Linked DNA regions of Homo sapiens. The protein of the gene in region 4 interacts with the protein of the main gene of each other region in a pairwise test. Each region holds a gene or a part of one and is shown on either strand. Other genes may lie near its edges. The genes, in order: CTDSP2, PPM1K, PTPN7 and PTK7.

What was found.
Region 1: the proteins of PTK7 (region 4) and CTDSP2 interact in a two-hybrid assay, tested with the Homo sapiens proteins (one study listed by BioGRID and IntAct).
Region 2: the proteins of PTK7 (region 4) and PPM1K interact in a two-hybrid assay, tested with the Homo sapiens proteins (one study listed by BioGRID and IntAct).
Region 3: the proteins of PTK7 (region 4) and PTPN7 interact in a two-hybrid assay, tested with the Homo sapiens proteins (one study listed by BioGRID and IntAct).

Annotation. Positions count from the first base shown.
Region 1 is NC_000012.12:57,843,572-57,851,692, forward strand, and holds the start of CTDSP2 (carboxy-terminal domain RNA polymerase II polypeptide A small phosphatase 2), read right to left. Parts: upstream 3,159-8,121; 5' UTR 2,865-3,158; coding exon 2,801-2,864; intron 191-2,800; exon of another isoform or gene 1-190. UniProt on the Homo sapiens protein: Preferentially catalyzes the dephosphorylation of 'Ser-5' within the tandem 7 residue repeats in the C-terminal domain (CTD) of the largest RNA polymerase II subunit POLR2A.
Region 2 is NC_000004.12:88,281,338-88,289,420, forward strand, and holds the start of PPM1K (protein phosphatase Mn(2+)-dependent 1K), read right to left. Parts: upstream 3,225-8,083; 5' UTR 3,069-3,224; intron 2,889-3,068; exon of another isoform or gene 2,438-2,888; intron 1-2,437. UniProt on the Homo sapiens protein: Serine/threonine-protein phosphatase component of macronutrients metabolism.
Region 3 is NC_000001.11:202,146,188-202,151,030, reverse strand, and holds the end of PTPN7 (tyrosine-protein phosphatase non-receptor type 7), read left to right. Parts: intron 1-606; coding exon 607-720; intron 721-1,658; coding exon of another isoform or gene 1,659-1,796; intron 1,797-2,331; coding exon 2,332-2,425; 3' UTR 2,426-4,015; downstream 4,016-4,843. UniProt on the Homo sapiens protein: Protein phosphatase that acts preferentially on tyrosine-phosphorylated MAPK1. Plays a role in the regulation of T and B-lymphocyte development and signal transduction.
Region 4 is NC_000006.12:43,079,078-43,086,833, reverse strand, and holds part of PTK7 (inactive tyrosine-protein kinase 7 isoform a precursor), read right to left. Parts: intron 1-7,756. UniProt on the Homo sapiens protein: Inactive tyrosine kinase involved in Wnt signaling pathway. Component of both the non-canonical (also known as the Wnt/planar cell polarity signaling) and the canonical Wnt signaling pathway.

The DNA.
Region 1 (8,121 bases), on a different chromosome or scaffold from region 4:
ATAGCCACCCAAGCTAGGAGCAATTTGTTTCTTTCCAGAAATTTACTTATTAATAATAAGTACCTCACACTCCTTCTTCCCCTTTTTCCAAAGGCAGGCAAGGCATGGAGATGGGATGTTGTGGAGAGGACGGAGTGGGGAGAAGAAGGAACTCCAAAAGGAGCCAATTAAAACATCTGCTTCCCCAGTCCCCCAGCTTTTGTTTTTTGTTTTGTTTTGAAGACGTAGGTTTTGTTTGTAAATGATGTGGGACTCAGAAAGTTGGTTTAGTGGTTGCTGGGTGCCTAAGCAGCCCAGGAAGAAAGTCTGTCTTCTCTGGAATGCAATCAAATTACATGGGGAGGGGCCGGGCGCGGTGGCTCACGCCTGTAATCCCAGCACTTTGGGAGGCCGAAGGGGGCTGATCACCTCAGGAGTCGAGACCAGCCTGGGCAACTGGCGAAACCCCTGTCTCTACTAAAAAATACAAAAAAATTAGCCAAGCGTGATGGCGCGCGCCTGTAATCCCAGCTACTTGGGAGGCTGAGGCAGGAGAATTGCTTGAATTTAGGAGGCGGAGGTTGCAGTGAGCTGAGATTGCGCCACTGCACTCTAGCCTGGGCAACAGAGTAAGACTCCATCTCAATTAAAATAAAAAATTACATGGGGAGGGAGAGACCCAGTGGCTGCTGGCTTAAACCACACACACAAAAAAGGAGAAACATTAACTCCAAGAAAATCCAACACCAGCAACTTAACACTGTCAAGCCAGTTGCTTTGCTTTCTGCTGTTATCTATTCTGTAGCCTGCCATTCACCCTGGTGGATGAAACTTCCAGCTCTGATTTCTAAGATGCCCCGGCGCAGTCCAGCTTTCCCTTACTCCTCGCGTGGCCCCACGATGCCCAAGGCACACTCCCTGCAAGAGAGTCCCTGCAAGAGAGGAAGACCTAGTGGGGAAGCACAGGGCTCCTCCCCCTACTCATCACCACTGCCCCCTCTTGAATCCCCCCACATCTAGGTTTCTTCCCCTCTGGCTAGCTCTTAGGGTCTTTTCCTGGGATAAAAAGGGAGTGGGAAGAGTCAGGAGTGAGCTATAAACACACGCAGGCTCCCTTCCTTTTTCAGCCATCAGCACAGTTGAGCAGCCAGCAGAGGCGGTGAAGTTGCTGCCTGGGTCACAGCCTGGTTAGTGATGCAGCCAGGAGAGCAGAAATCATGGCAACACCGAGGTCAGGGAGGCCGGAGCCTTCTCGGGGGTTGGGATCTGAGTAGGCAAGGCCATCCCTTCTCAGGGCAGGCTTATTTAAAGTCCGGCCAGTGATGCAAGAGGAACACACTGCCTCCCTCCCCCCACCCTTCCCCCCTCCCAGCTCCTCTCGTTCCACTGAGGGAATTTGGGAGAGGCTGACACCACCAACTCAGCGGATTTGCCCCTAGGGAAGTTGGGGGAGCTCCTTGGAACGTGAACCCCAGGAATTAGTGACCTGCTGACTAATGTTGCCAAACGGGGAGACGTGGGGCGCACGAGGCCCCGAAGCTGGCCGCCCACCAGGCTCTAGGCCTCAGTGTGTTCAACTGCAGCACCGGCCCTTCGCGCTCGGTGGAGAAGGGGAGGGAGCGCTCCGGCTTCGGCCCCAGGAGCCAGCTCCCGCCCCAGCCTCCGGGGCCAGGTGGCCCCGGTCGGGGGGCTCTCTAGAGAAACGCCACACTCGTCCTTACACCCCGCGGAAAATCTGCCGCTATTTTGGACACATTCCTCAAGGCCAAAAGAAGAACGTGGCGGAGGGGGAAAGAGTTTCGAGTCTCCCACTGTGACCAAACTAAGAGGTTCCACCCTCGGGCCCCAGCTTTCTCCCGCCCCGGGAGAGGCCTCGGCCTCCGCCTCACCCCCGCGAGGGCCTGCGGGCCCCCTCGCGCCTCCACCTGACGCTCTGGAAGGCGGGGGCCGCCAGCCGCTGCCCACAGAGAACTCGCACTTTTTCGCTGCGCGATTCAGAACCACGCCGGGTCTGATGCCATCCGGCGAATTATGTAACCAGGGACACCGCTCCCGGGCTAAACAAACGCGGCTCTGTGTGTGCAGCGCCGGCCCCGGGGGAGCGCACCGGGCAGGGAGGGGCTCTGGCCGGGCCTCAGGGTCGGGCTTGTTTGCTCAGCGAAACTGGTCAGAGGCAGCCGGGAGGGAGCCCGACGCCGCCAAGGTCCCGGGGCCTGCGCTGAGCCGGGAACCCGCCACGTCTGGTGCGCCAGGGCCCGGGCCCCTCCCCCACCGCGACCGCCCCCGCCTCCAAGAGGTGAACTTGGTCCCAAGTCCCGCCGGACGCCGTCACCGCCAGCTAGCTGCCCGAACGACCTCGGGCTTGGGGGGGCCTGCAAGTGCTGGACTCCAGTCTCGGTTCCGTTCCACCTGGGGCTCCCTCTGTCACCTTCCTAACCCCTCCCCGCGATCCCGGGGCAGCCGCGCGCGGCGGTGAAGGAAAGTGACGACCCCACCCCCAACTCCGGAGGCGGTGGACGCGGAGTGGCCCAGTGCTTCGAGAGCTACCCCTCCGTCTCTCAGCCCCGAGGGGGAGGGGTTGCGGGACAGGGTGACAGCTGCGCCGAAGACGCCCTTTCCGCTCGGGCGCCGGGATCCCCGTGCAACCCCCACGGAGGTCTGAGTGCCAGCCGGGATGCGGGGGCGGATGGACCGGAGGGGTCCAGTCGGGATCGCTGGCTCTAAGCCCTGGAGGTCAAGGGCCGAGACCTGGGTTCGGGGCTGTGCTAGCCCCCTCCGCGCCCGGGGGCGACGCAAAGTTTTGGGAAGTTGCTGCCCCTACCTTGCTTGGTGAGCACCAGGGCGTCTTCCCTCCGCGCCTGGGTGATGATGGAGCCGTGTTCCATCTAACAATCCCGCGGGCCCGGGCTGGCTGGGCGGGAGGACGGGCGGGCGCGCGGGCTGGGCTGGGCTGGGGGGCCTGGGCGGGGGCCCGCTCCGGCTCCCGAGACTCCGACTTCCACAGCTGTTCACATCCCCCCTCTCGTTTCCTCCCCGGACCGGGAAGGGAGGCGGCCTGTACAAAGGGCGGGCGGCCCGGGCAGCGGCTCCCCCGGGTGCCCCCGGCCCCGATCCCCCAGCGGCAGCTCCGGGCTCCTCAGTTTGGGTCCAACATGGAGAATCCGGAGCGAAAACAAGAGGAGGAAATGGGACACGGGGCGGTTTCCAGGCTCCCCCCTCCCCTCCGTACTCCAGATAAACAACCCGCGGCTGCAGCGCCCACCCCCGCGCGCCTCCCGGCTCTCGACTCGGCCTCTTCACGGCCAGCTGGAGCTTCCCGCTGGGGGCTGCGTCCTAGGCCCTGGGACCCTCCATCTGTGAGCGGCCGGGGCTGCGGACAGTCGGGAGCTTTGCTATTTTGTTACGGAAAAAGCGAATCCTCAAGGGGGGTGGGGTGGCGGGCGGGCAGGCTGGCGGGGGAGACTTGAAACCGTTCCGGTGCTCCGATTGGCTCTCTTGGAGAAAAGGGGCGTGGCCCCTCCTTACTATGCGGTGAGAGGACCTAACAACATTCCAGGCGCCACGGCCACGCCCCCGGGCCACTCCCCCCGCGCCAGACTGCGGCCTCCCAGTCTCCTCGGCCACACCCCCTTCCCAACTATTTAAAAGGCCGCTCCGAAGCTCACGTTCTGGTGCTCTGTGCTGGGGTGTTCTTTTCTCGGAGGGCGCACTCGGGGAAGGTGGAAAGGTTTCCCCCTTCAGGGGTGACCAAGACAAGCCGCTAAGCCTAACCTGACTCCAGCAGGGGATGGGGCGGATCGGAAGTTACCTTACCCCCCTGCTTAGCCCTAGAATCAAGGACGTACCAAGTCACATAAAAGTACAACCGTCGAGGCCAGGCGCGGTGGCTCACGCCTGTAATCCCAGCACTTTGGAAGGCCGAGGTGGGTGGATCACGAGGTCAGGAGTTCAAGACCAGCCTGGCCAAGATGGTGAAACCCCGTCTCTACTAAAAATACAAAAAAATTAGCCGGGCGTGGTGGCGGGCGCCTGTAATCCCAGCTACTCGGGAGGCTGAGGCAAAGACTTGCTTGAACCCGGGAGGCGGAGATTGCAGGTAGCCGAGATCGCGCCACTGCACTCCAGCCTGGGCGACAGAGCGAGACTCTGTCTCAAAAAAAAAAAAAAAAAAGTACAACCTTCGAATCCCGAAAGGGGTGTGTGCGTGTGGGCGGACCTAGGACTCCAGAGTATAAGAGCTGGAACTGACCTCGGGACTGTGTCCCCCAAAACACTGAAAATGAGACCTGAGGTGCTGGGCTTTCCTCACACCCACCGACTTACTCCCATTTAGGCGGCCCCGACTCCGCCCCTCCTCCCTACCTCCCTCATCCTACCCCTCTCTTTTTGCCCCCACAGTCCCAGCTTCCTTTAGATGGATGGAGGTCTCTCGGAGGAGCTTCAGCTTTGTGGACTCAGGCTGCCTTCCCCACTTGCTCTTTAGGCCTCGGGGCACGCTCCGCTGGCTACAGCTCCTGGAGTCTCTGCTCAAGGTTGTGGGTGCTTTTGTTCCCCAGCGGTGGTAGCTCCAGAAAGGCTGGTTTCAGCTCAATATCAGGTCTTTTCCAGTGATCTACATCTGTCCACAGGTGACATGGGCTGCCTTGGGACAATGGTAGCTGTTCAAGTCAAGGCCGGCAAGAGTGGTGTAGAGTGAGATTGCACTGGGTGACTTCTGAGCTAAATCCAACCCCAATATTCTGTGATTCAGTGGCACTCACCCTGCCAAGGAAGGGGCTTCCTTCCTGCTGCAGTTCCCATTGCCCAACATGCATCAGGTCTTACTGATGATTAGAGGACAACTAGGTCACAGCTAAGCTTGCCAGGTACTATCAGACACCTGCTTCCTATGGTCCCTTCCTCATGAGGACAGGTGAGGTCATGATCTGCATATGCCTGTGTGCCATACAGTGATCATGTGTGCCTGTTTCTGCTGTTCCTACGCACGTATACAAAACCTTTTTATATAACATCATTTTAATGGAAATGCTGTTTTTCCAAAATGAAAGTGGCTGTTACAGATCTGAATGATGCTTATGTAACTTTAAACACTGAATTTGGGTAGATCTTAATTCATTAACAGAAAGGGAAACGGAGGAGTTCTGACATACCCACCTCCCATCATTAAAACAATAGGATCTTTAAGGTAAATCTTCAATAGTCAGGTTGCTATGGGGGCCTTTTTAGACCCTTCCCCTGCCCTCTTCTAAGGTAGATTAGTTGCAGTGGGAGGAATGCAGGCAGGAGCTGAGGACTGAGGATTTAGAGGGGCCTGCTACCCATAGCACTGTAGGGCAGGACACTTCACTTCGTTATGCTTCCATTTCCTCATCCATAGAGACAATACCTCCCCTTTTGTAATTTACAAAGTACTTTCACATATATTATCTATTTCATTTGATCTCTCACTTCTTTGAGGTTGATAGAGCAGATATTATGCCCATTTTTATAGATGCCTGTTTTGTAAATGAGGAATTGGTCTGGGAAGGTTAATTGACTCACCTGAGACCTCACAGCTTGTTAAGAAGAGGAGACAGGATGTCTTTGGACTTTAAGACTAGAACCCTTGACACTTTAACATAGTTCCCTTCTTATCTATAGGATGGAGGAGACACTAGAACCTATCGCTCTCTTTTCCTGCTGTGAACTCCAATTGCATCACCTCTCCTGGAAGCCCTCCCAGATGCCCGCCCTCATGTCAGGGTTTTATAGCCTCATACATACTCTCTCAGACCACTTGGCACCCTATCTTGCAACTGTGTGCTTATTGGCTTCCCAACCAGAAGGTGGATTGAGACTAGGGGATGTCTTATTCTTTACTGGATTTCTTGTGCCTAGCAGAGTGCCTAACACAGAACAGGTGACTTGTACATGTTGAGATGAAGTCTCACTCTGTTGCCCCAGCTGGAGTGAAGTGGCGTGATCTTGGCTCACTGCAACCTCCGCCTCCCCGGTTCAAGCAATTCTCCTGCCTCAGCCTCTTGAGTAGCTGGGATTACAGGCACCTGCCACCATGCCCAGCTAATTTTTCTATTTTTAGTAGAGATGGGGTTTCACCATGTTGGCCAGGCTGGTCTCAAACTCCTGACCTCAGGTGATCCACCTGCCTCTTGGCCTCCCAAAGTGCTAGGATTACCAGTGTGAGCCACCATGCCTGGCCTTGACTTTATGTCTGAACCAGTGTTCTTTTGTCCAGGGATTTGTTCAGTGACCTACAGCAAGAAACACATTTTATGTTGTGAGATAAATGATACAAAAGTTTCATGGACAATACTTACCCTGGCTATGTGTGCACACTCATATTTTCTATTGCACGTATTGTGTTCTATTTGATGGTTTTAAGGTGCCAGCCATGACCTTTTAAATTGAATTCACAAACCACCACCGGATTGTGACCCAGTGTTAAAACAATGCTACTTTCACTCCTGGATGCAGTAGATGCCTTCATGTGTGTCTCAGGGCTCTGGCTGTCCCTGAAAGATGCAGAGGAGATGGTCCTCAAGCATTTCTTGCTCTGAGGTCAAAGAAAAATTTATGTATAACAGATAGAACCCCTTCCAAGGCCAGAGGCACAAGGGTACAAATAGAACCCAGCAAGGAGGGGTAAATGAGGGAGGAGGGGCAGTTCCCAAGAGGCCTGGTGAGGACCCCTGTGCTTCCAGAGACTACAAAAGCAGTGGAGGCGCTACTGGAGCCTGGAACCCCAAACATAGGTGGGGCTTGCTCTCTTGATGCCACAGGCTTCTCACTGCTCTGTCCACAGATGACTAGGAAAAGGTCTGCACTCTGGAAAGCTCTGTAGGGTCATGGTGGGCCTCTTTCCTATAGTTGAAGTGGTGAGGGTGGTGGGAGGCAAGTGGACCTTCTAACTTCTGCCTAAAATAGCCTCAAAAATAACATCCTGCCTACGGGGCCTGGGCCAGTTGCTGGTTGTGTAACTTTAGGTGGTTCATTTTAGGTGGTTCAAGGGAGATAGCTGAAGCCAGGTCTAACAACTCTCCCAGGAGAAAGCCCACTGACTCTCACTTGGTTCCCTACCTGCTGTATCCCCTTTCCTCTGGCCTCTCTGACTGCATGGTTGGTAAGAGGCAATTTGGAAACAACAGCAGTGTCCCCATTACCCCCAAATGCTAGAATGGGGGGCTATGTGGGGCAAACATGGAGTGGCTGTCCCTGTCTGTCTCCTGCTGTGGCTACTGAAGTCGGACTGGGTGTCCCGAGCCAAGGCTGGCGAAAGGGAAACAGCTGGAGGAGCTTCCTCCATGGGAGATGCCTAATTGCCCTTTTCCCCACAGAAAATAAGTACAAGGTTGGGCTACCGACCTTTCATGATTATCTCTGATGTCACTGAAATATTACTTTTTTTCTTAAAAACTTTTTTTTTAAAAAAAGGAACACATTGATTTTCTTGGTTTTTCTGATTGTCCCTGCAGTCTCAGTTCTGCTTTGTATTGTTCATGAGTAGGTGGATGTCAATGCCAAGATTCCAGAGCTTGGTGCCCTCCTGTCACAAGGCTTGTATGGTATGGTCCTGTCCTGGCTTCCCAGGGCAGAGTATCGGGGCTGAGATGGGGTGGGGTGAGGGAGAGAGACCCAGTGGCTAATGACTGAACTGCTGTGAGGGTGCCAGATGCTGAGGGCTGCAGAGGGAGGGAGGAGCTAGTGGTAGCGGGGATAGCTCCTCTGTGCAACAGCGTGGGAAACCTCACTGCCTGCAAGGTGCAGGCATGCTCATCACTCCAACACCACCGCTTAATTACTTAACCTCTTGACTCAGTTTTCCCTTAAGATGGAGCGAACAATAGTACCTACTTTGTAAGTTATTGTGAGGATTAAATGAGATGATGTATGAAGTGTTTATGCCTGAAACACTGAGTGCTTAATAGACACTATGCTCATCATCATCATTCTCCTTTCCTCCAAAGCTGTTCCTTCTGCATCCATCATCTGCCCAGTTCCCCAAGCCAGAAACCTGAGGTCACCCAATTCTCTCCCACCTAACTCATGCCTACCCCCTATCAGTCCTGAAAACCAATGGCTCCTCCACTCCCAAAGGTTTGTCAGGCCTTTTCCTTCTTTCCATTCGCATGCATGACTGGCTGC
Region 2 (8,083 bases), on a different chromosome or scaffold from region 4:
CTTGCCGTTTTATCTCCTCTTTATCCTCCCCCCAATTTTTTTTTAAATAATAAAATAGAACTGCATTCTCACAGAGAACAAATATCCACTGGAAACATTTTTAAGAAATGAGATAAAATGCAAATTGAGCAGTTTCTGTAAGGCTAAAAACCTGCGTATTTTAAAATCAATCATCAACCTGGCATCCTTCCTCGTGTATTGTTTCTATAATCATCTCAGAAAGCAGGCAGTCATAGGAAACCACCTACTTTAAGGCATATTATTGGCAGAGATGAAATGTGACCCAGATATATAGCTAGTTTATAAAAAACAAACAAACAGGTCGGCATCGCTTAGGTAAACGAGATGTTACGAACTGGCTCCATGTCCTTTTCCATCTGCAATGTAACTAAATCATATCAATCCCCTCCATATTCCCTAAGAAACAATTCAAAGGCAGCTGGAGTTCCCAAAGTAAATAACAACTTTGAATTAAACCTGCACATTAAGAAAAGTTTCCTCCTCCAGAACTCCACAATTGGGATCTGCCATCATAGACCCCACAGCTCTGCCGATGCCCATGGGAATGACTATGCTTTGACCAGCAAGGCAAGGGGAGTAGAACTTGTGATGTGAAAAACAAAAACCTTAAGGAAAAAAAAAAAGCAATCAGTGTTCTCTAAACAAAAAGAGTGGAGAACAAACTAGCAAACACCTAAGGATTGTCTTTTGTCAGTTCAGCAATTAAAAATTGGGATGAGTTCATTATTCCACAAACTAAGAGAGAGAAGGAATCTTTTTAAGTAAGCAGGGGAGATTTAGGTCAATTTTTTGATCGGAAAACATGGCTAGTTTATTTTTATAAACCATTTTAACATTATATTCAATCTTTGGAAGTCAAGTCATCCAAAAGGAAAGCACTTTCTCTGGCAGGAAGGTGCACTGGATTTGAGTTAAACTGTTCTTGTATGTTAAAAGCAGGTCAAAAGGGCAGTTTAAGCACATGCCAAAATTATTCAGGAGTTCTAAAGTTCTGAAACCTGCTTAGATTTTATCCCTCTAGAAAAAATATTTTAAGAAAGCATTCCTATCTGCCCATTATGAAGTGGCATTTAGGTATCTACAACTTCCACAATGAGAACACAGCCCTTTTAAATATTCTTAAACCAAATATTTACCTATCGACCTTTTTAGAAAATCAATTAAGGCATCCCAGTAAATTCAAATAGTATGGAAATTTCCAGAATGTATTTCAGCTAATTGGGACCCCAATACCTTCTTTCTCAATACCCTGCTAGGAGGAAGGGAAAGAAAATTTACTGCTTTACCTGAGGGGAAAAAAGAAAACAACAATAAAAACTCCAAAGGACTCCCCTTAGGTTTAATGTGAATATGTCTATGTTCAGATGTGTGACTGGAGAAAAGTGTGAAATGTGAGCAGTGAAAAGTACTCAGTATTCTATTCCCATAGATATCTTTTAAGACACGTTAGTAAATATGCATACAAGCCACAGACTATATCCCAAACCTGTAACTTTATAATGCCTTTAAGAACTTTCCTTCACAGTCTATTATGTCACCAGCCACTCTCCTCTCTTCTTTCCTCGTCTCTAAGGATTGCAGTCAAGGAATTTGCCTGGGTGATCAGTAGTAATGACTAAGGTTGCAAGAAAAAATTATTAGCGAGAACTCACTACTCAAATATTGTAACTAAGGTATTTTATCAGACACACACACACGCACGTGCTGCTCTTCTTCCTGCCACAGCTGCCTAACCAGAACACCACAAACCATGGCTGTTTTTCTTTTTCTTTCTGAGACAGGGTCTTGCTCTGTCGCCCAGGCTGGAGTGCAGTGGTGCGATCTCGGCTCACTGCAGCCTCGACCACTCAGGATCAAGAGATCCTCCCACCTCAGCCTCCGGGGCTGGGACCACAGGCACATGCCACCACGCCCGGGTAATTTTTGTATGTTTTGTAGAGCCGAGGTTTCGATGTGTTGCCCAGGCTGGTCTCGAACTCCTGGGCTCAAGCCCGCTTTGGCCTTCCAAAGTGCTGTGATCACAGGCGTGAGCCATTGCTACCGGTCTCATTGCTCTTTTTCATCGTCATTGTAATCTGTCACTTTAGTCGCTCATTCTGAAACCGAAGGACAGCCTCATTCCTCCGCCCTGACGGAAAGAACCGATGAGGCCTTGCTGCACGTTAGCAGTGGGAGGCTCAGAAAAGCCCGTGGAGCTTTTGAGACTGCAAATTCCCTGGCTATTTCCACCTGGAGCCTCTTTGTCACATCCGGTGAATTCCCTCATCTACAGAAAGCGGCTGCTGAAAAAGACATCACCAGCTACAACGCCTTGAGTACTACAGCGCTCCCTGCGCAAAGTAAAACCCAAGTCTTCGGATCAAAACCAGCCGGGGCTGTGCATCCTTCACGATGCCGGACCTCCTGAAAAGCTCACCTGGGTACAGCTCAGGATCCTGGCCTCGGCTCGCTGGCCCTGACAGGCGGGTGGTCAGGGTGACACACGGTGGGAAGAACACACGCCCGCCTGCCTGCGAAGCCTCGCAAATAGCTGGGCTCCCTCGGCACCTTCTGCCGCCAGGTCTCCGCCTCCCAACCTCCCTCTGGGCGTACCGAGCCCGTTGTCGCCACGTTTCCCTCGCCCGGGAGGCAACGCGGCACCCACCCCGCAGCATCCTCGCTTCCGGGGCCTCGGGCAAGGGTCTCCAGTCCCAGCCCACCCACCCTGCCCGCCTCGCGCCGCGCTGGCCCTCCAGCCTGCGGCCACATTCAAGGCCGAGCGCAGTCTGGGCTGGAAACCCGCCGCCCGGGGCGCAGGCAGCCCAGCTGGGCCCCGCCTCACCCCGACGAGCTGCTCACGACCTCCAAAGGGAAGAAAGCGACGCTCTGAGAACTCCGAGAGGCCGCCGGCCAAGCGCCGACTCGGGGGGCGGGGGAACGGAAACCGACGTCTCCCCTTCGACCTCCCGGGAAACCCTTCTCCGTTTACTCTCCATTCCGCGACCGCCAATAAAGAACAGCATACATGGTTAGCAGAAATAAATGAATTGCACTCTCTAGGCTCTTACCTCTGGATGGCTACGTCCCTGAAAAATGTTTTAATTAGCTAACGGAGGACGGGGGAGGAGCTTTCTTGGTCGGTAAATAAGAGTGCCTTCTCCGTCGTCTCGGATCTCCGAAGCAAGCAGTCAAAGCGGCCACTGCCTTGCCTGCTGGAAATTCTCGAAAATTTTTCTCCCGCAGTTGACCAGATGGAGAGGGAGAAGTCTGTTCCCGCTGACTGACAGCAGATCCGGCCAGTCCGCACTCGGCGAGACGGCTGGCCGGCCGCCCGGGCCCTCGATCGCAGCCAGTCACAGATGCCGATGGGAACGAGCCTCCCCGCGGCTGCTATTTGACTTCGCAGGCTTCCAGCTGCGCGGCGGAGCGACGTCACCCTGTGCCAGTGGTGGCTCGCGGCGGCGCCCCGCCCTCCCGAGGTTAGCTCCCCAGCCAAAGAGGGGGCGCGCTTGCGCGGTGGGTGGGGCCGCGAGACTTGGTACCTAGCCAGCGGGCGGAGCGCGGAGGGGGTTTCGCTTCGGGCTAAGGGACTGTAGTTGTGACAGCCAGGAAACCGAGAACGGAATGCCAATACTGCTTAGGCTTAGAGTTTGAAAGGCATCTGATTTCACTGCCATGTCTTTGAACAGCAGTGCACAGTGCAGTCTTCTTCGTGGCTGAACAGGTATCTTGTGATCTTTAGGGAATGTCTATTAATTCATTAAACAAGTATTTCTGTGTTTATTGAAGGACGTCTTGTATGCTATACATTTGCTAGGCACTGGGGATACGCCCCTAACACAGCTAGACACGATAGCTGCCCTCATAGAATTTTCAGTCTAACAAAGAAGAGGGAGAAAACCAACAAGTAAGCAAGCACATAGAATAGTAATTAATCATGTCAAGGAAAGAAATAGGCATGGTGTGGACACTGGAGGATAACTTCAGATAAGATTGTTATATGAGAACTTTATAAGATGGCATTTAAACCATCAGTCATTCAGCCATGGAACCAATAAAATGATGAATTGTTTTGGGCAGAGGGGACAGCAGACAAAGGTCTCTCGGTGAGACAGCCCGGCGTTTTGGAAGAACAGAAAGAAAGCCAAAGTGTCTCCAGCATATTGAGGGAGGGAAAGAACAGCATGATGTGAGAGAGATGAGGCAGACAGGGGCTTGGAGTTGGCATTACATTTTAAATTTAATGGGCTTCTATTGAGGCATTCGAAAAAAAGAAGTGAAAGGGTCTGGGTTTAGACTTTACATCACTTTGGTTAGTGTGCAAAGAACAGTTAAAATAAGCTATTGGGAAACTGATTAGGAGATGATGACAGATGAAATTTAAGGTGGAAGATGACTTTGATTAAACTATGACAATATCACTGAAGGGAGAGAAGAGCAGAGAGATTAGAGATTTTAAAGATAAATAATTAACTTGATTTGGCATTTTAGTTATTCTAGGCCAGGGACAACTGTTTTGAATCCAGTGCATTTAATAACCAGGTTAGAGAGTGACTCTCATATTGACGGCTCACAAATTATAGTAATAACCTTGAGTAATATTATGTTGAGTTGATGTCTTTTCATAGACTTCCTGGATTTTTTTTTCTTTTGTCTTTCTTTCTTTTTTTTTTTTTTTTTTTTTTTTTTTTGAGACAGGGTTTTACTCCTGCCCAGGCTGGAGTGCAGTGGCGCTATCTGAGCTCACTGAAACCTCTGCTTCCCAGGCTCAAGTGATCCTCCCACTTCAGCCTCCCAAGTAGCTGTGACTACAGGCACGCTCAACCATACACAGCTAATGTTTATATTTTTTGTAGAGATGGGGCTTCCCCATGTTGCCCAGGCTGGTCTTGAACTCCTGAACTCAAGCAATCCACCCACCTCAGCCTCCCAAAGTGCTGGGATTACAGGCATGAGCCACTGTACCTGGCGTGGAATTTAAAAAAATAATAATTTTATTGAAACATGTGTCTTAAAAAGTGCACATATCCTAAGTGTAGACAGCTCAATGAATTTTCACAGTCTGCAGACACCTTTGTATCCAGCACCCAGATCAAGGAACAAAACATTATTAATACCTGGGAACCCCATCAACCTGCCTTCCAGGCACTGCCTTCTTCCAAGGGGAGTTTCTATGCTGACTTTCAACAGCATAGGTAGTTTTGCCTATCTTTATACTTGTTATATATAAAGCCATAAAGTATGTGTTCTTTTGTTTCTGGCTACTTGGACTCAACATTACACTTGTGAGATTCTTCCATATTGTTGTATGCAGTTGTAGATCATTCATTTTGTTTTCCATTCTGTGGATATACTGTAATTTATGAATTCATTCTTCTGATGGACATTAGGGCAGTTTGCCATTTAGAGCCATTATAGATAGTGCTACTATGAGCATTCTACTACATATCTGTTGGTGATGGCTTTCATTTGATGGAGTATTTTGGTAGCTAAGTTACTATTAAGTTTTTAAAAATCTGCTCATCAATAATGTAGTATCATGTGTTGCAATATCTCAATCATTTGGATCAAAATTTGGTGCAGATAATGAGGACTTTGCTTTCACAAATGTGAAAAATTTTGGTAACAAGAAAGATGTGGGAAATTTTAAGCTTGGAAGTGTAAAATATTTTGAATTGTCCTGGAGTTTTGACCTTTTTTATAACCACTTGCATGCCCAGCATCTGAGAACATCATGACTTTGCTAAATCCTTGTACCAAAACAGACTGGAATCCAGAGTCACATGATAAGCAAAGCCACTTAGGCTGTTCTGAAGAATATCTTTGATACTAAAACAGTCCTTGAAATTGCCTTTGAAAATCACACCATTTCACACTCTACCACAGCTCATTAAAATTAAAGCCAGCAGTTTACTTCTTTTGAATTATATGCTTCTGGGTTTTGAATCTCTGAAGCATAGCTAAATACACCACAAAAATAATTCATGGCCAGCACAGTGGTTCATGCCTGTAATCCCAGCACTTTGAGAGGCCAAGGCTGCCAATCACTTGAGCTGGGAGTTCAAGACTAGCCTGAGCAACATGTCAAAACCATGGTCTCTACAAAAAAATACAAAAATGAGCCAGGCATGGTGGCGCATACCTGTGATCCCAGCTACTCGGGAGGCTGAGGTGGGAGGATCACCTGAGCCCAGGAGGTCCAGGCTGCAGTGAACCATGATCTCACCACTGTACTCTAGCCTAGGTGACAGCACTTTGGGAGGCCGAGGCGGGTGGATCACAAGGTTAGGAGATCAAGACCATCCTGGCTAACACGGTGAAACCCCGTCTCCACTAAAAATACAAAAAATTAGCCGGCGTGGTGGCGGGCGCCTGTAGTCCCAGCTACTTGGGAGGCTGAGGCAGGAGAATGGCGTGAACCCGGGAGGCGGAGCTTGCAGTGAGCCGAGATCGCGCCACTGCACTCCAGCCTGGGCGACAGAGCAAGACTCCGTCTCAAAAAAATAAAATAAAATGCACAATTATTGGTACACCAAACCCCCATGAAATGCAGTTTATCTGTATAAGAAACCTGTTCATGTACCCCAGAACCTAAAATAAAAGCTTTTAAAATGTGAATAATGTGTAAAGGAAATCATTATTTGGTATTTGACAAAAAATTAAAAAATGGAAAAGAATTCACCACAGAGGCTGACTTGGCATGACAGATCACTGCACAATGTACAAAATAATCAAGGGGATATGGCACTCCGTACATTCATTAAGTTGAGCTACTTCTTTATTCAGTTTATATTTTATTTTATTTACTTATTTTTTTTTAGAGACAGGGTCTCCCTGTGTTTCCCAGGCTGGATTGCAGGGACTATTCACAAATGTGATAATAGTGCACTATAGCCTTGAATTCCTGGGCTCAAATGATTCTCCCGCCTCACTGGAGTAGCTAGGACTACAGGCATGCACCATTGTGCCCAGCTCAGTTTATATTTTAAAGAATTGGACCATCTGCTGAAAACCACTGGCTATCAGAAAATTACACCCAAAACAATTCACAGGGCTTTGGGTGGGTGGGTGGTATGTATAATTGCAGAATTATTAATATTCACTAATGAATCATTTGTTGTTAAAATTAGATATGGACATTTTTGTATACTCAGAATCAGCAGTTTTCTAGAAAAGTATCTGTAGGCTACTCTTGGCCTCATGCCTAAAACATGGGCCTGGGATACTAGGATGTATTTTTTCCACAGTTCAGGCTGCTCTGTCCTGAATTGCTAGCCCAGATGTCCCTTCTCTGTGTTACCAAGATAATTGCCAAAACACTGACATAGAGAATTTTTAGGTCTGTTGCAGTGGCTCATCCCTGTAATCCCACCACTTTTGGAGGCCAAGGCAGGAAGACAGCTTGAGGCCAGGAATTCGAGACCAGCCTGGGCAAGATAGTGAGACCCCTGTTCTACAAAAAAAAAAAAAAAGATTAGCCAGACATGGTGATGTATGCCTGTAGTCCCAACTACTTGAGAGGCTGAGGTGGAAGGATTACTTGATCCCAGGCGTTTGGGGTTGCAGTGAGCTATGAACATGCCACTGCACTCCAGCCTGGGCAACAAAGCAAGACCTTGTCTCTTTAAAAAAAAAAAAGAAAAGAAAAGAGAGAGAGAGAATTTGAAATCTTGTCCTTGGATGCAATTAAACTTGCAGCAATGATTTTATTTTAAAATATGATTGTTGCTTCCCCCACCCTGTATAATTTACCTCTAAAAATTTGGAATAAATAAGCTTCAGGCCAGGCGCAGTGGCTCATGTCTGTAATCCCAGCACTCTGGGAGGCCGAGAAGGGTGGATCATTTGAGGTCAGGAGTTCGAGACCAGCCTGACCAACATGGCAAAATGCCGTCTCTACTAAAAATACAAAAATTAGCTGGGTGTGGTGGCGTGCACCTGTAATCCCAGCTACTCGGGAGGATGAGGCAGGAGAATCACTTGAACCTGGGAGGCAGAGGTTGCAGCGAGCCAAGATCATGCCACTGCGCTCCAGCCTGAACAAAAGAGCAAGATTCTGCCTCAAAAAAAAAAAAAAAAAACT
Region 3 (4,843 bases), on a different chromosome or scaffold from region 4:
AAAAGGCATGACACAGGGGCCTCCCAGCCCACCCACAGGTAGCACTGGGACATGTGCAGGGAGGTCATTAGGGGCTCACGCAAGAGGAAGGGGAGGCCTAGGGGGTTTTGAAATAAAGAGAGGGCACGATAGAGAAAGCAGAACAGAGTGGAGAGAAGACTGTGGGAGGGCGCCAAGGTGGGAAACAGAGGGGCCGGGCGTGGGCTGCGTGGAAGATGAGTCTGAGCTGAGAGGAAGTCAAGGTTAGATAAGGAGGGCTCGAGGGTCAGCACACCCACAAGTGGGAAACTGTCTGTTGGAAACCACTGTAGACTCAGCAGAAGGGAGATCGTCAAAATGTCCACAGGGACCAAAAGGTGGCCTGCAACAGGCTTACAGTAAGGCTGGTAAGAAATGTAAACTCCTCCCATGCCAATTAAAACCTGCCTCCAGCAGGGCCCCCAAGGGGACTGGAAAGCAGAGTACTGCTACCTGCCTCCATCTCCAGAGCCCTATCCCCAAAATATAGCACCTGCAGGTCCCATTTCTTTCTCCATAGTTTGGGGCCTGGCTCTCATATTCCCTGGTCTCCCATGACCTCCCTGTCCCCTCCCTGGCTATCTCCAGTGCAGGGATTGGCCGGACGGGCTGCTTCATCGCCACGCGAATTGGCTGTCAACAGCTGAAAGCCCGAGGAGAAGTGGACATTCTGGGTATTGTGTGCCAACTGCGGCTAGACAGGTGGGTCTGTGGGTGTAAACAAGGCCAACAACGTTAACGGATGGCATCAGTGCCTCTGGGCCCCAGAGTTCTGCTAGGCCCATCACCATCAAGCACTCCTGCAAGAAAGGAAGAAACCCTTTCTGCTTAGAGCTGTTTATTTTACAACTAACAACCAGGAAAAAATATCTATCTGGATGGCCGGGTGCGGTGGCTCACACCTGTAATCCCAGCACTTTGGGAGGCTGAGGCGGGTGGATCACCTGAGCCCAGGAGTTCGAGACCAGCCTGGCCAACATGGTGTAAACCCTGTCTCTACTAAAAATACAAAAATTAGCCAGGCCTGGTGCGGGCCCCTGTGATCCCAGCTACTCAGGAGGCTGAGGCAGGACAATTGCTTGAACCCAGGAGGTGGAGATTGCAGTGAGCCGAGATTGTGCCATCGCACTGCAGCCTGGGTGACAGAGCAAGACTCTGACTCAAAAAAAAAAAAAAAAAAAAACAAAAAAAAGAATATCTGTCTGGAATGTTGGCTTGGATGCCTGGAATTAAACATGATATGAGGCAGCAACAAGTAGTGCAAAGAAGATCACTGGGTGGAGGCAGAGCCGGTGTTCAGATTCTGACATCTGTCTCACTGAGATGTCACTAGATTTCTCTGAGCCCCCATTTCTTTTTTTTTCTTTCTTCTTTTTTTAATAATAGAGATGGGGGTCTCACTATGTTGCCCAGACTAGTCTCGAACTCCTGGGCTCAACAATGCCCACTTGGCTTTGCAAAGTGCTGGGATTACAGGCTTAAGCCACTGTGCCCAGCCCCCACTTCTTCTTTATCTAGACAGAGATAATGGCTCCTTCCCCCAGAAAACTGTTGTAAGAAATGAGTTAACTTATATGAAAATGTTTTGGAAATGGAAACTACTATACAAATGTATGGAATCATTATTTTTACTTTTTAAGATTATTAGAAAGAAGGAAACTTGAGGCTCAGGAGTATTCCTGGCCCGACCCAAGGCTTCAGAGATCTGGTTTTGTCCCAGGAGCTGAGTGGATCAAGGAAGACCAAGTGTCAACATGGGGCATCACCCCTCAGCACGTGTAAGGGGCAGAGGACTTCTCTCACAGCAGATCTGAGGGGCAGCAATGAGGAGTAGAAAGTAGAAAAGATGAATATAGGTGGTGGGGCATGGTGGCTCATGTCTGCAATCCAAGCAGTTTGGGAGGCCAAGATGGGCCAATCACTTGAGGTCAGGAGTTCAAGACCACCCTGGCAACATGGTGAAACCCTGTTTCTACTAAAAATACAAAAATTAGCTGGGCAAGGTGGCAGGCACTTGTAGTCCTAGCTACTCAGGAGATTGAGGCAGGAGAATCACTTGAACCTGGGAGGCAGAGGTTGCAGTGAGCTGAGATCATACCACTGCTCTCCAGCCTGGCTATCAGAGTGAGACTCTGTCTCACAAAAAAAAAAAAAAAAAAAAAAAAGTGAAAAGATGAATATAGGCAAAGGAGTTGGCATGTTCTTTGAGAAAGTCAGGACTTTCCCAGTAGGACCACAGGGATGTTTGACTGGAGCCATTCAGCCAGCACCCTGACCCTCCTTCACTCATGGTCTGTGTGTTTCTCCTTGCAGAGGGGGGATGATCCAGACGGCAGAGCAGTACCAGTTCCTGCACCACACTTTGGCCCTGTATGCAGGCCAGCTGCCTGAGGAACCCAGCCCCTGACCCCTGCCACCCTCCGGTGGCCCAGGTGCCTACCTCCCTCAAGCCTGGGAAGGTGGGTCTGGGGAAAGTGGGCCGAGTGATCTGGGGGTACCCCTTGGGTTGGTGTGGGGAAGGAGTGCCTCCTTAGTGGTGCTTGCAGTCACAGGAAGCAGCAGCAGTAAGGACAAGGGGCCGGATTCCAGGTCTTCAACACTGGCCACTCCTCTGCTTCCTCTGTTGGCCCCAGATGGACAGTAAGGGGAACCTCCAATGTCTCTCTGAACTTAAAGACAGGAGCTGGCATTTATGACAGACAAAGAAAGAAGCCCAGGTGTCCTGGTGTTCTCTGAGACACTCTTTGTGAGCTTCAGTTTCCTGTTCTATAACATGAACATAAGTGCTTAGCTGCCATGAGGGAAAAGTAATGAGAGAAGTTTCTAGAAGCCACTCCAGCCACTCCTTCCTGGGGCTGACAAAAGGGTGATTCCAAGATCATCCTTCACCCGAGGTCCTGCCCAAGCACAGGCCAGATGCAAGAATGGGGAAAAGTCTGGTCCTGATCTCCAAGTCTCAACATCCTATCAGTGACTCTGCTCCCTGACCACACATCGGAAGGGCTGGATGACCCCAATCAAAAGAAAGAACAAGGACTCTGGTTACCCTTGCCTCCACCCATGTGTCATAAGAGTAGGCTACAGAGGTGACCAGGCCTGGCAGTTGAAATCTCTGGAAGAGGGAACATGTGGGGACTACTCAGAGGCAAAGAGGAGCTGCTCCTGCCTCCATGGTTGCTGGCCACTCCCACCAACTACTCTTAGGGAGGCTAAGCAGTCTCTGTTTTGCTTCCATGGCTCAAATAATACCCTGGGTATGCAGGACCCACTATACCTTGCATTTGCTGAGTACACCTAGAGAGCTTGGCTGTTTCCAAAAACAATCAGGGTCATAACCATCCATGCAGACATGGAGGCTCGGCTGAACCAGGACTCCTCACTGTCTACCTGAGAGAATGAGCACCCCTCATCCATCTCAGCATCAACACAATTTCCAGGGGACCTCAGGTCTACCTCAGGACTGAACGCCACACCTCAGGATTCCTCCTCCTTGAATCTGAGACTGGCTGCCCATTCTGAGATGGGGATGAAGGTAAGATGCCGCATCACCAGGCACGCCGCCCCTGACAGCTGCCTTGATACCAGCTCTCTGTGGAAACCCCCGAGGAGTTGGATCTGGAGAACAGCTGGGCCTCCTCACTCAGGACTTCTCTCCTGAAGAACACGCAGTGCTAAAACTGAGGATGATTTCCCTAATGCTTCTGCTTGGCCTTATGGAGGAGCTGCTCCTTCCTTACAGCCTTGGGGATGGACTTGCCCACACCTCCACCTCCCCTGAGCCCTGTGAGAGGCACGACTGTCTATGCCAATGAGGCTCGGTGGGGGGCTCTCAAGTGCCTGATCCTGCCCTGGGCTCAGAGCCAGCCCAGAGGGAAGCAACTGCACAGCCCCACAGGCCCTCCCTGGCACTGTCCCCCCAACCCCATCTCAGAGCTCAGAGGGTACAAGCTCCAGAACAGTAACCAAGTGGGAAAATAAAGACTTCTTGGATGACTGACTCATTCCTTCTTTCCATCTTCTTCTTGGCCCTCTGGGGCCTCTTTGTAGCAAGAGAGAAAGACTGCAGACCAGGGACAGGCAGGCTGCAAATCTTTGCCCTTGGGATATGCACTTTTCTAGCACTTCCAAGGACATAAAGTAAGGTGAAACCAAAGTCAATTTAGGAAGTGAGACAGGGTGGACCCTCATAGCCTACCCAGGCAGCTGTAACAATTCACACTACCGTAAACCATGTGGCTTCTAAACAACAGAAATGTATTGCTGGCCTGGCGTGGTGGCTCATGCCTGTAATCCCAGCACTTTGGGAGGCCGAGGCAGGCGGATCACGAGGTCAGGAGATCCAGCTAACACAGTGAAACGCTGTCTCTACTAAAAATACAAAAAATTAGCCGGACGTGGTAGCACACACCTGTAGTCAGCTATTCGGGAGGCTGAGGCAGAAGAATTGTTTGAACCCTGGAGGTGGAGGGTGCAGTGAGCTATCATGCCACTGCACTCCAGCCTGGATGACAGAGCAAGACTCCATCTCAAAAAAAAAAGAAAAAAGAAAAAAAGAAATGTGTTGCTCACAGTTCTGGAAGCTGGGAAGTCTAGGATCAAGACCCTTGCAGACTCAGTGTCTGGCTATTAGGCAGAGCCTTCTTTCTGTCCTTGCATGGTGAAAAGGTTGTGGGCTGGTATTCTTCCCCCTAATCCCACCGGCCCCCTTTATAAGGCTCTACCCTCATGACTTAATCACCTCCTAATACCATCACTTTAGGGATTAGGACTTCAACCTATGAATTTGGGGGGACACAAACATTCAGTCCATAGCCTTTATCTTAGG
Region 4 (7,756 bases):
TCGCTCAGGTGCCCAGGCTGGAGTGCAGTGGTGCAATCACATCACAGCTCACCCACTTCAGCTCTGACCTCCCAGGCTCAAGCAATCCTCCTGCCTCAGCCTTTGAGTAGCTGAGACTACAGGCGTGCACCACCACACCCAGCTAGTTTTTTTGTATTTTTTGTAAAGACAGGGTTTCATCTTGTTGCCTAGGCTGGTCTCAAACTCCTGAGCTCAAGTGATCCACTTGCCTCTGCCTCCCAAGTGCTGGGATTACAGGCGTAAGCCACTGCGCCCACGACTGGGAGTACTTATTTGTAATGTGCACAAAGGTACCATACGAGCTAGCTGCTGGGACACCTCAGCAGTCCCAAAGCAGACAAGCGTTCCCCTCATTGCCCCGCCACCACCCCAAGGAGGAGACAAAAAAAAAAAAAAGCCAGAGTGTCTCCTGGAGGGGAGGTTGTACATGATAGTGCCCATGCGGGCCCCCATAACCACCCCCAGGGAGAGCCCACTGCCCTTGGCCACACAGAATCTCAGGAACCTCCCCACAGCACAGACAGAAGTTCCCACAAATTAACAGAGTCGCTGACTGGGGAAACCCCCACAGTCATCCAGTGATTATAAAAACCCCTCCCTTGGGTATCATAAAAGTCTGCCTAGGCTGCCTGAAGCACAGTTCACTACCCACTCCCTGAGAACCTCAGCATGCCAGGAGAGACAGTGGCCCTGAACCAGCACCAACCCACCCCTTGGGAGAATCTGCTATTGAGACAAAGAGAGAGGGAGAATTCCCACCAGGAAAATGTGGCTGTGTGTGGCTCCCACATTTCTGGGCTGCTGTTGGAATACTGAGACCCATTTAGAAAACTTGTGCTTTTGAATGAGGAAGCCATGTTTTTTTTTTTTTTTTTTTTTGAGACAGAGTTTCGCTCTTGTTGCCCAGGCTGGAGTGCAGTGGCGCAATCTCAGCTCACCACAACCTCGGCCTCCCGGGTTCAAGCGATTCTCCTGCCTCAGCCTCCTGAGTAGCTGGGATTACGGGCATGCGCCACCACACCCGGCTAATTTTATATTTTTACTAGAGATGGGGTTTCTGCATTTTGGTCAGGCTGGTCTCGAACTCCCGACCTCAGGTGATCCACATGCCTCAGCCTCCCAAAGTGCTGGGATTACAGGCGTGAGCCACCGCACCCAGCCCAAATGAGAAAACCATTTCTAAGGCTGCTAGTCAAGAGGGACTTTGTTGAGCCTTTGGCAAACCATTCTAGGGTCCGAAGGCTGGAAATAAAGGCTGACACCTCTGGCCAGGCACAGTGGCTTATGCCTGTAATCCCAGCACTTTGGGAGGCTGAGGCAGGTGGATCACGAGGTCAGAAGTTCAAGACCAGCCTGACCAATATGGTGAAACTCCGTCTCTACTGAAAATACAAAAATTAGCCGGGCATGGTGGCGGGCACCTATAATCCCAGCTACTCGGGAGGCTGAGGGAGGAGAATGGCGCGAACCCGGGAGGTGGAGATCGCACTACTGCACTCCAGCCTGGGCGACAGAGAGAAACTCCATCTCAAAAAAGAAAGGCTGACCCCTCAAAAGGAAACGGCTGGCCAGGACAGTCTCTGGGAAGAACCATCAGGGCTAGCCAGAGGGGCTGCTTCCCAGGGGTCACCCATTTCCACAGTTGAAGAGCATTATATCACAACTTCACAGGGGCCAGCAAGGCAGGCAACAGCATCACTTGCATTGTGCTCACGAGGAAACTGAGGCTCAGAAAGGTTAACTAACCAGCTCAGGGTCATGTGGGTATGCAGCAATTGAGCCAGGACCAGAATACAGAAAAACTGGTGTCACAGGTCTATAGATGTCTCTTCTATTACTTCATCACTTGTGGCTGCCATGTGATATTAGAACAGTACCACCCAGGTTTTCAGAATCCTGGTCCGATGACTTTACATCATTCTGAGGCCGTCACTGACTACATCTATTCATCATTCTGAGGCCGTCACTGACTACATCTATTCAGCAATGTAGGGTCTTCTCTCCTCTCTGAAGCCCTCCCACCCCCTATTTGCTCCTACATCTCAGACTTACCATCCCACACATTCTAGAATGTTCTTCTATTCTACTTAGCACTTTACCAAATGGTGTCTTTCATACTTCATCTGATTCACGTTTCTCCATCTTGTCTTCTTCCTGCATTCCATGCCTCCTCAGACAGCTTCACCCATAGAAGACACTGAAGCACTTTGAATGAACTCCCTCCTAAGCCCCCCACTATTAATATCACCCTTTTTCTCAACACCACACCTCCGCTTCAGACTGATAAATTCTCCTTATGGCTACCCAGTGGTTCTCACACTTAAGCGTAGGTAAGAATCTCCAGGAAGCTCTTTATAAATGCAGTTTCCAGGCTGGGCGTGATGGCTTACGCCTGTAATCCCAACACTTTGGCAAGCAGAGGCAGAAGGATAGCTTGAGCCCAGGAGTTCAACACCAGCCTGGGCAACACAGCAAGACCTCGCCTCTATTAAAAATAAAAAATAAATTTAAAAAACTAGCCAGGTATGGTGGCATGCACCTGTGGTCCCAGCTACTTGGGAGGCGGAGGCGGGAGAATCACTTGAGCCCAACAGGACAAGGCTGCAGTGAGCTGTGATTGCACCACTGTACTCCAACCTGGGTGACAGAGTGAGACCCTGTCTCAAAAATAAATAAATAAAAATTAAAATGCAGTTTCCTTTTGAAATCTGGCCTATGTAACTGGATCAGCTATTCAAAAACAGCAACATAATCTAACAAATAAATAAAATGCATTTTCTGGCCTCTCCCTCAATAATTCTGATGGGCAGGTCTGCAGTAAGGCCCAGGAAACTAAACTTTTCATCAATACTTTGGTGACCTGCCCTATACTCTCCACTCTAATTTGAGAAACACATATCTACACCTTCCTAATATGTAACTTACAATCCCTACCCTGCGACTCGGGACTTTGTCTTCAGAAATTACATACACACCTAAACCTGTGAGTGCATATCCCGCTTATCAAGGCTTACACTTCTAACAGGGGCTTGGGATCTGCAGGACACCTGGTGGATGACGTTCTAGTCACCTGAGCGTTCACTCAACACATACCCCAGTTAATGCACACAGCAGATGAGAGTTTAGCAATGTAAAACCAAGTTGCGAGAGGGGAAAGGCGCCTGTGTGTGTGTCAGCCCTTCGAACCAAGCTTCCTCCCTGCCCCACTGCTGTCTGTGTAACATTATTGGGAGGGAAACGGCCTAAATGCAGAGAAGAAAAGAGGATGGAAAAAGTGACATACTACAGAGGGCTTCCTCAAACCGCTGATTAGCTGTGGCATCTCTCAGGCCAGCTCCACCAAAGCGCCAGGGGGCTCAGCAGTGAACTCAAGAGAATTCCAACATAGGACTCTAACCAGCTACAATGGCAGGACTTTCACACCCTCAGAAGAAGGACCAGGCAGATGGGGGCCAGAGCAGGAATCAGGAGAAGGGCAGGCGGCAGCTCCAGGGCAAGGTGAGGGCCAGTGCCAGCAACTGTGGCCCCAAGCCTGTAACCCCACCACGTGGCTCTGGCCAGGGGTAGTGCCCAGGCACAGCAGCAGAGAGGCATCTACTGAGGTTAGGGAGAGCAGGAGGTTGAGGGACACAGGCCAAGGACACCCAACCTTGTTTAATGACCCTTTCTTCCATCAGGAAAACACCAAAGACTGAATCCTTGGCCCCAAACTGCTCTTGGCTCCAACACTAGAGTCTGAACCGGCCAACCTCTATCCCAGACGAGTCTCACAGAAGCTGCATTGGCTTAAACACAGACTCACACAAACCCCCTCACTCCAGAATATGAAATGCTCCAAAGACTAACAACACTACAGCTGTCAAAGCCCAGCGGAGACATGCCTCCCTTTATGAGCCAAATGTATTCCTGAAAAGTTGTCTGTCGACCAAATTTCTGCCTAACAAATCCAGTTTCTCCACTGGCTTTCGTTATAAAATCAGCCGTATTCTCCTCTAGGAAAAGCTGAGGTTCTGAGAGGAGCTAAACATCAGGCTGAATATTGCAGACTTCCTAGAGTCACACATTTAATGGAGAAATTTCTTGACAAAATCTAATTCAATTTAAACCCAAAGGAGGTAATATTAAAGCGTACACATCACCCCAAGGAGTGTTCGCATAAAGTGAGTTATTTAAAGCAAATCTTCAAATACTGTGCAGCATCTCAGCTCCCAATTTATACTGTTGCAACAGGAAAGCTCTGTGCCTTGAGATTCTGTATAAAGAAGGATGCCTAGGCCAGGACTTCTGGAACTCTGGGGTACAGAGTCACCTGAGCATCTTGTTAAAATGCAGATTGCAGCAGGGCACGGTGGCTCACGCCTGTAATCCCAGCACTTTGGGAGGCTGAGGTGGGCGGATCATGAAGTCAGGAGTTCGAGACCAGCCTGACCAACATGGTGAAACCCTGTCTCTACTAAAAATACAAAAAAATTAGCCTGGCGTGGTGGTGCGCGCCTGTAATCCCAGCTGCTCAGGAGGCTGAGGCAGGAGAATCGCTTGAACCCAGGAGGTGGAGGTTGCAGTGAGCCAAGATCGTGCCACTGCACTTCAGCCTGGGCGACAGAGTGAGACTCCATCTCAAAAAGAATAAATAAATAAATTGCAGATTGCGATTCTGATTCATGCTCCCAGGAATGCTGATGCCACGTGGCCCTGGGTCTTTCTTCAAGTAGCACAGTTATAGATACTCTAGGCCCCTACCCAGTTCTCTGAGGAAGCAACTTTAGCACCAGTTTTTAAGTTGCAGTCAGCTTCATACGTAGCGGTGCTTACCCACGCACAGAACTTGGAGAAAGCTAGAAGACCCACCACATCAAAACTGAGAAAAACCACCACCAAAACCAGCCAGCCCAGGATCAGGGAAGGAAGGTCTGATCCTTAATTTGGTCACCGTAGAGCAGGCGCAAGGAGGAACAGGCAACCCCAACTCAAAGAAGCTGGGGAGGGTGCAAAAGACTCCCCATGCCTAGGATGCAAGGGGATATTTAACTCCACCCTTGATCATTCTGCCCTGCACCCAAATGGTTCATTCACTTTTTAAATAAACCTATATGAGGACCTGTTATATCGGCTGGGTGCAGTGGCTCACGCCTGTAATCCCAGCACTTTGGGAGGCTGAAGTGGGCAGATCACCTGAGGTCAGGAGTTCGAGACCAGCCTGGCCAACATGGGGAAACCCCGTCTCTATTAAAAATACAAAAATTAGCTGGGTGCAGTGGCACACACCTGTAAACCCAGGTACTCAGGAGGCTGAGGTAGGAGAATCACTTGAACCTGGGAGGTAGAGGTTGCAGTGAACCAAGATCGTGCCAATGCCTCCAGCCTGGGAGACACAGGCAGACTCCATTTCAAAAAAAACAAAAACAAACAAACAACAAACAAAAAAACCACCTACATAAGAACCCATTATAAATAAGTACTGTACTAAACTCTATGGGAGAGCCCCTCAGTAAATTAAAACAAAACCCAATAGGGGCAAAAATATGGATGGTGTCGCAAGAATGACAGTCCAGAAGTTCTACAGTGTCTACCTTCTGGCAGGAGAGATAGGACAGCTTCAGGGAAGAAGAGGCGGTGGGGCTGGGCAACAGAGAGACAGGAGAAGGCAATGTACAACCGGGGACTGGCCCGAAGGAAAGAAAGGTGGGAGAAAACCAGATATGTGTTAGGAGATGGCAAATATTCCAGCTGGACTGGAATGGAGGGTCCCAGTAGGTAAAATGTCTATTGTTGGGAATGACTGTAAAGCTGAAGGAATCTTTGAAGCACACCACAGAGGGAAGACCAAGAAAGGGCTGTGTGTGTGTGTGTGTGTGTGTATTTTTTTTTTTTGAGACGGAGTCTCGTTCCGTCGCCCAGGCTGGAGTGCAGCGGCGCGATCTCGGCTCACTGCAACCTCCACCTCCCGGGTTCAAGTGATTCTCCTGCCTCAGCCTCCTGAGTAGATGGGATTAGAGGTGTGTGCCACCACACCCAGCTAATTTTTGTATTCTTAGTAGAGACGGGGCTTCACCATGTTGTCCAGGCTGGTCTTGAACTCCTGACCTCAGGTGATCCGCCTGCCTTGGCCTCCCAAAGTGCTGGGATTACAGATGTGAGCCACTGCACCCGGCCTACTTCATTATACTTAATCCTCAGCACAACTCTAGGATGTCCCTTTATAGAAGAGGCTGAGAAGCTAAGAGGTTCATCCAGGGCCACAGGGCCTGCCAATGAGTCTGAGTTGCTGCTTTGCCAGATATACTCCTTATCCCTGGGCTCCACATCCCTCAACAGAGGATCAAAAACACTGGGGGAAGATAAAAATTAAAAACAATACAACAATAAAAAAGAATACAAATTAAAGAATACAACAGTTATTTACATAGCATTTCCATTGTAATAGGTATTACAAGTAATTTACAGATTTTTTTGTTTTTTTTGAGACAGAGTCTCGCTCTGACACCCAGGCTGGAGTGCAGTGGTGCAATCTCGGCTCACTGCAAGCTCTGCCTCCCGGGTTCACGCCATTCTCCTGCCTCAGCCTCCCAAGTAGCTGGGACTACAGGCGCCTGCCACCACGCCTGGCTAATTTTTTGTATTTTTAGTAGAGATGGGGTTTCACCATGTTAGCCAGGATGGTCTCGCTCTCCTAACCTCATGATCCGCCCACCTCAGCCTCCCAAAGTGCTGGGATTACAGGCGTGAGCCACTGCATCCTGCCCTTTTTTTTTTTTTTTTTTTTGAACTCTGTCACCCAGACCGAAGTGCAGTGACACAATCATGGCTTACTGTAGCCTCAACCTGCTGGGCTCAGGCAATACTCCCACCTCAGTCTCCTGGGCAGCTGGGACCACAGGCACGTGCCACCATGCCTGGCAATTTTTTTTTTTTTTTTGTACAGGTGGAGGTCTCATTGTGTTGCCAAGGCTGGTCTTGAGCCCCTGGGCTCAAGCGATCCTCCTCCCTCTGCCTCCCAAAGTGGTGGGATAACAGGCGTAAACCTGGCCCTTAGAGATGATTTAAAGTATACAGGAGAAGCTGGGCATAGTGGATCATGCCTGTAATCCTCATACTTTAGAGCACTGAGGCAGGAAGACTGCTTGAGCCCAGGAATTTGAGGCTTCAGTGAGCCAAGATTGTGCCACTGCACTCTAGCCTGGGTGATAGAGGAGACCCTGTCTCATAACAAAACAAAACAAAAGTATACAGGGAAGTTGTGTGTACGTTATATGTAAATACGACACCATTTTATATAAGAGACTTGAGCACCCTTGGATTTTTTTTTTTTTTTGAGACGGAGTCTCGCTCTGTCACCCAAGCTGGAGTGCAGTGGCACGATCTCGGCACGATCTCGCCCAAGCTGGAGTGCAGTGGCACGATCACTGCAAGCTCCACCTCCCGGGTTCAGGCCATTCTCCTGTCTCAGCCTCCCGAGTAGCTGGGACTACGGGCACCCGCCACCACGCCTGGCTAATTTTTTGTATTTTTAGTAGAGACAGGGTTTCACCGTGTTAGCCAGGATGGTCTCAATCTCCTGACCTCATGATCCGCCCGCCTCGGCCTCCCAAAGTGCTGGGATTACAGGCGTGAGCCACCAGGCCTGGCCGCACCCTTGGATTTTGTTATTCTCAGGGAGTCCTATTCCAATTCCCTGCAGATGCCAAGGAAGGACCATACTTTATCTCCATTGCTTGAGCTCTGTCCACCACTCAAT